Homo sapiens: one gene and its partner. The protein of the gene in region 1 purifies or fractionates together with the protein of each later gene. This does not show direct contact. Each region holds a gene or a part of one and is shown in the gene's direction. Other genes may lie near its edges.

Region 1 (3,500 bases):
GCAGCTCTGGGGTCTTGTGAGGATGGACTGGAGGTGGGAGGCTGGAAGTTAGGAGGCTGAGGTGACAGGTGGAAGCGTGAGCTGGGGCCAGGGCTGTGAGGATGGAGAGGAAGGGACGAGGCCGAGAGAGTCGGGGTCAGGGATCAGAAGGGACAGACTGGGGGCTGCCGGCCATGCAGAAGTGAGGGGGATAAGACAGTGGTGCTATTTAGTAGACGAATCATTCAGCAAATATCACCAAGTACCTACCACATGCTAGGAATTTAACATATATTCTTTAATCCTTGTAACAATCCAAGCCAACTCCTAGCTCCTTTCATTCATGTATTCAATCCATTCATTCACTGTTTCAGCAACTGATTCTTTTTTTTTTTTTTTTTTTTTTTGAGACTGTCTTGCTATGTCACCTGGGCTGGAGTGCAATGGTGCAATCTCGGCTCACTGCAACCTCCGCCTCCTGGATTCAAGTGTTGGGGTCTCGCTATGTTGGCCAGGTTGGTCTTGAACTCCTGGGCTCAAGCAGTCCTCCTGCCTTGGCCTCCCGAAGTGCTAAGATTACAGGCATGAGCCACCACCCATGGCCACAACTGATTCTTGAGAACACAGTTGCAGGCACTACAAATTTGGGATAAAACAAAGCGTGAATCTGCCATCACGGTTTACAGTCTCCAGATTGTAAGGGGTCCGCAAACTAACTCCAGCCTGAGGGCCTGATCTTTCAGCATCTGTTTTTGTAAACAAAGCTTTATTGGAACACAACCATGTTAAGCCACGACAGCAGAGTGGAATAATTGGGACAAAGACTATACAGCCCCTATAGCCAAAGAGATTTACTATCTGGCCTTTTACAGGAAAAGTTTCCAGCCGCTCATAGGAAGAAGCAGAAAATAAGCAATTAAGGCTGGGCGGCGGGGGTGGCTCACATCTGTAATCCCAGCACTTTGGGAGGCCGAGGACAGTGGATCACTTGAGGTCAGGAGTTCGAGACCAGCCTGGCCAACATGGTGAAACCCCATCTCTACTAAAAATACAAAAATTAGCCATGCGTGGTGGTGGGCACCTGTAGTCCCAGCTACTTGGGAGGCTGGGGTAGGAGAATCACTTGAACCCGGGAGGTGGAGGTTGCAGTGAGCCAAGATCACACCACTGCACTCCAGCCTGGGCTACAAATAGAGTGAGACTCCCTCTCAAAAAAAAGAAGAAGAAGAAGAAGAAGAAAAGAAGCAATTAAGATAAAGATAAAAGAACAAGACTATTACTCTGGCCACTTCAGTTAAAGAGGTCTGGCTGGGCACAGTGGCTGCCGCCTATAACCCCAGCACTTTGGGAGGCCAAGGTGGGAGTATCATTTGAGCCTAGAAATTTGAGACCAGCCTGGGCAACAGAGCAAGACCATTTCCTCAAAACCAAAAAACTTAGGTGTGGTGGTGCATGCCTGTAGACCCAGCTACTTGGGAGGCTGAGGTGGGAGGACTGTCTGAGCCCAGGAGTCTGGGAGGCTGCAGTGAGCCATGATTGTGCCATGGTGCTCCAGCCTGGGGGGACAGAGTAAGACCCCATCTCTGGGGGAAGAAAAGGAGTTCTGCAAAGGACTTTTTGAGGAGGTGACACAGAACCTGGAGGGTGAAAAGGGCCAGGCAGGCAGAAGAAACAGCAAGTGCACAGGCCCTGAGCTTCCCTGGGGGAGGGGGTGGAGGATGAGCTTGGCTTGTTCAAGGGACAGCAAGGAGCACAGTGAGGCTGATCCCAGTGGCCAAGGGGAGAGGGCTGCTGGAGTCCAGGGAGAAAGATCAGGACGGATTTTCGGCCATGGTGAGGAGGCGGGACTTTATCTTAAACGTGAAGGGAAGCCACCTGAAGGTATGTGATCCATCATGCATTCATTCAACAGCCGTCTGTGGAATCTTCTTTAGAAATGCAGAGACACATCCTAAAGGATCCCTGTCCACAGCCTAAGGAGATGCCATAGGGGAACCTGGGGGGCTTCCAGGAATGGCCTCACCTAAACCCCTGTGTTTCACAGACATTCAGGGAAGGCCATGACCAACCCACCACCCCAGGCCACAGAGCACAAGGGCCGAGACCCCAGGCTTCCGGGCTCCTAGTCCAGAGGGGGGACTGTCTGGCTCCTCTTGTTCCATCCCCCCCACCTCTCCTTTTTGTAACCTCCCCGTCATTGTCCATTTCCAGCTCATTACCCCCCCACTCCCCTCCCTGCTCCTATCTAACTCCTCCCCCTGCTTGCACCCACTCCCAGTCCTTTACCTTCCTCTGTTCCCCACCCCCAGGTCTAGAGGGGCCCCTATGGGATTGAGGGGGAGAGGGTGTGGGCCTATGGGTGAGGGAGGATTGGGGTGGGGGTGGCTGGGTGGGGGAGGTCCCTGCTTCTCTTGCCTATGATGCCAAAATCCATTCATTGAACTCAAATCATGGCTGGAGCTGATGGGGTTGGCTGAAGCTTCTATCCCTGGTGCCCTGGATCCTTCCCCCTCCAGCCCTCCCCAAGCCTTTTCCTTGCTGTCCTTCAGCCCCACAACCCTCCCTCCCACAAGACCCCTTTGGCCTATTGCCCCCCATGCTCCTTCCCCCAAGAGTCTCTCCTACCACAACCTTCCCTTCCCAACCCTTTCGTTTTTGTTTTTGAAATGGGGTCTCGCTCTGTCGCCCAGGCTGGAGTGCAGTGGCGCAATCTTGGTTCACTGCAGCCTCTGCCTCCCAGGTTCAAGTGACTCTCCTGCGTCAGCCTCCAGAGTAGCTGGAATTACAGGTGCCTGCCACCACACCCGGCTAATTTTTGGATTTTTAGTAGAGATGGGGTTTTGTTGGCCAGGCTGGTCTCGAACTCCTGGACTCAAGTGATCTGCTTGCCTTGGCCTCCCAAAGTGTTGGGATTACAGGTCTGAGCCACTGCGCCAGGCTTCTTCCCTCCCTAATTGTCCCCTATGGTCCTCCCAAGACCCTCCTTTCCTCCAGGCTTGTCCTCCACCCCTGCTCCTCCCTCCTACATCTGCCCTCACCTGATCACTGGCTCCCACTCCTCCCCAGAACTCTCCCTCCTCCCATCCTTCCTCCTCCCCTCCCCCTCCCCAGCCAGCCCGGAAGCTCCTTCCATATTTGATGTCTCAGCCGCCCCCCATTTCACTGCTCCCCTCCCGCGGAAAACACCAGAGAGGAGGAAATGATCCCGGCGGCGTTTCTCCATCCCCCCAACAGTGAGGCTGTGTTGGGGGGTTTCCCCTGACCATCCTCTCCCCACCCCCGTGACTCTGTGTATTTCTGTCCCCAGCTCTTGTCACCGCCTGAGACCTCGCGAGACTTTCGGTCCCCCCCGCCCCTTCCCCCCAGGTTAGCAATTGGGAATGGCTGGGAGGGGGTGTCCCCAAGACACTGGGCTTCAAATCTCCCCCCAAGCCCTCCCTCCTACGATCAAGACACCTTTTGTCCAGACAGCTCCCTTAGCGTTGCCTGGAAAAGCCACAGAGCTCCCTGCGGGGGTGCAG
Region 2 (2,805 bases), on another chromosome or scaffold:
AGAGCAAGACTCTCTCCAAAAAAAAAAAAAAAAAAAAGCCGTACAAAATTATAATAATCAAGATATTGTGGTACTGGCATCAGGATAGACATACAGATCAATGGACTAGAATTGACCATCTAGAAATAAACTGTTAGATTTACTGTATAGTCAATTTATTTTGACAAGAGTGCCAAGTCGATTCAATGAGGAAAAGAATATTCTTTTTAATAAATGGTGCTAGAGGCTGGGTGCAGTGGCTCACGCCTGTAATCCTAGCACTTTGGGAGGCTGAGGTGGGCCGATTTCTTGAGGCCAGGAGTTTGAGACCAGCCTAGCCAACATGGTGAAACCCTGTACTAAGAATACAAAATAATTAGCCAGGTGTGATGGCACGTGCCTGTAATCCCATCTATTCGGGAAGCTGAGGCAGGAGAATTGCTTGAACCTCGGAGTTGGAGGTTGCAGTGAGCCGAGATTTCACCACTGCATATCAGCCTGGGTGACAGAGTGAGACTCTGTCTCAAAAATAAATAAATAAATAAGTCGTGCTAGAGCACTCTTTATTGGTGTTCTGCTTCTGAGATTTTTTTTTTAATTTTTAGAGACAGGGTCTCATTCTGTCACCCAAGCTGGAGTGTGGCGACGCCATCATAGCTCACTACAGCCTCAAACTCCTGGGCTCAAGCGATCCTCTTGCCTCAGCCACTTGAGTAGCTGAGATTACAGGTGTGCACTGCCACGTCCAGCTAATTTTAAAAATTTTTTGTAGAGACGGGGTCTATGTTGCCCAGGCTGGTCTTGAACTCCTGGCCTCAAGTGATCCTCCCGTCTCAGCCTCCCCAAGTGCTGGGATTATACAGCTGTGAGCCACTGCGTCCAGCCCTAAGATGATTCATACCTATCGGGGAAAACAGTGCCACTGGAGAGAACAGGCTGGCCTCTGCACTCTGGATTGGTGACAGGAGTTATCCAGGCCTGTCTGAAGGCAATAGCAGGTGTGTCCATGGGACTTCTTCCAGGACGGGTGGGTCTTGAGTTACAGACCTGAAAAGGTGCATAGGGTTCTGGGAACAGAGTGGGTCACGGGTGAGCCCAGGCCTTGGGGTGAGGCATACCTGGCTCTGTTTGGCTGAGTAGCTTCAGGCAGATCCCTTTTCCTTTCTGAGCCTCTGCTGCTGACCAGGGTGACGCTATTCCATGCTGGTCCACAGTGAGGAGACGGGAGGGAATGGTGGCCAGCACACTTGGCATGGGGCCTGGCCTGTGGCGTGGGCCCACCCCTGGCTGCTTTTGGTTTTCCTTGACCGGCCGCCCTGCCCCGGGCAGACAGATGCAGCTGGGGCCTTCCGGTGGCTGGAACCCTCAGAGCGACGGCTGCAGGTGCTGCAGGAGGGCGTCTTGTGCAGGACCTTGGCGGGGTGCTGGCCCCTGAGGCTCCTTGCCACCCCGGGTAGCCTGGCGGAGCTGCCTGTCACCCATCCTGCCGGAGTGAGGTGAGGGTGATGGGGGGGATGCCAGTCCAGGTGGTGGGCACTGTGGCAGGGCTGCCAGTCAGGCCCTCTTCTCTTCCCACTCCTCCAGGCCTCCCATCCCTGGACCGCCTTATGTGGCCTCCCCTGACCTCTGGTCCCACTGGGAAGACTCAGCCCTGCCCCCACCAAGCCTGAGGCCTGTGCAGCCCACCTGGGAGGGCTCCTCAGAGGCAGGCCTGGACTGGGCTGGGGCCAGCTTCTCCCCAGGGACTCCGATGTGGGCGGCCTTGGATGAGCAGATGCTGCAGGAGGGCATCCAGGCCTCGCTTCTTGACGGGCCAGCCCAGGAACCCCAGAGCGCACCATGGCTGTCCAAGTCCTCTGTCTCCTCTCTGCGGTAAGGTGGGGTGGGCAGAGGTGGGGTCCCCTGGTATAGGGGCCGGGGTGGCCCTGACACTCCCCACTTCTCCCCCCACCCCCAACAGGCTGCAGCAGCTGGAGCGCATGGGCTTCCCTACGGAGCAGGCGGTGGTGGCACTGGCAGCCACAGGCCGTGTGGAGGGTGCCGTGTCACTGTTGGTTGGAGGACAAGTGGGCACTGAGACCCTGGTGACCCATGGAAAGGGTGGGCCTGCCCACTCCGAGGGTCCTGGGCCTCCCTAGCCCAGGCAGAGAGTGGGGCACAGGCAGGCCCTTGGGTGCTAAGGGCTGGGCTGCATGTGGGTAGCCCGAGCTCCTACTCTGTCTAAAGAGGGCCACAGTGGGGAGCAGGGGCACCTCTGGAGGCAGGAGAGGCCCCCCAGCATGCTGCCCTAGTACGTGTTTAGAATAAAAACCAGTTTGTTTTTCAACCTGGACCTCCTTGGAGGCAGCAGTTGTGTTTGACTCTTCTGTGTTGGCATCAGGGGGATGAATGAATGAGTGAGCACCAAATGAATGACCAGTTGTGGGAGAGCTGTTCCCTGATGTCCAGAGACACAGGCTTCCTGGCCCTGCACCTTGCAGCCTATACCTCCAGGAGGCTCTGTCCTCCAGCACAGAGCATTCTCCACCGCCCATTTCTAGCCCTCTCCGTCGTAGCCTCATTCCCAGCTGCCCCCATCTAAGCACACACTGAGACCAAGCTGCGGGGAATCAGGTAGGGGCCTTTATTGGCCAGCACACATCTACCTCCTGGCATCTGTCACAAGCATTTGCAGGAGTAGGCGGCCCCTTCCTCTCCATGTCCCCATCCCCAACCTGAGATGCGGGAGGGCCTGGGGGCTCAGAGGGAAGAACTGAGGCAAGAAGCCCCCGGTGATCCAGTCAGAGGATTGGGCAGCCTGACCTCGGGGTGGGGAGCCCAGCACTG

The links.
Region 2: the proteins of KCNC3 (region 1) and RHBDD3 purify together in Homo sapiens (affinity purification with mass spectrometry; one large-scale study listed by BioGRID and IntAct). This does not show direct contact.

Annotation. Positions count from the first base shown.
Region 1 is NC_000019.10:50,315,878-50,319,377, reverse strand, and holds part of KCNC3 (voltage-gated potassium channel KCNC3), read left to right. Parts: intron 1-3,286; 3' UTR 3,287-3,500. UniProt on the Homo sapiens protein: Voltage-gated potassium channel that plays an important role in the rapid repolarization of fast-firing brain neurons.
Region 2 is NC_000022.11:29,259,372-29,262,176, reverse strand, and holds the end of RHBDD3 (rhomboid domain-containing protein 3), read left to right. Parts: intron 1-751; exon of another isoform or gene 752-977; intron 978-1,312; coding exon 1,313-1,475; intron 1,476-1,563; coding exon 1,564-1,851; intron 1,852-1,939; coding exon 1,940-2,117; 3' UTR 2,118-2,305; downstream 2,306-2,805.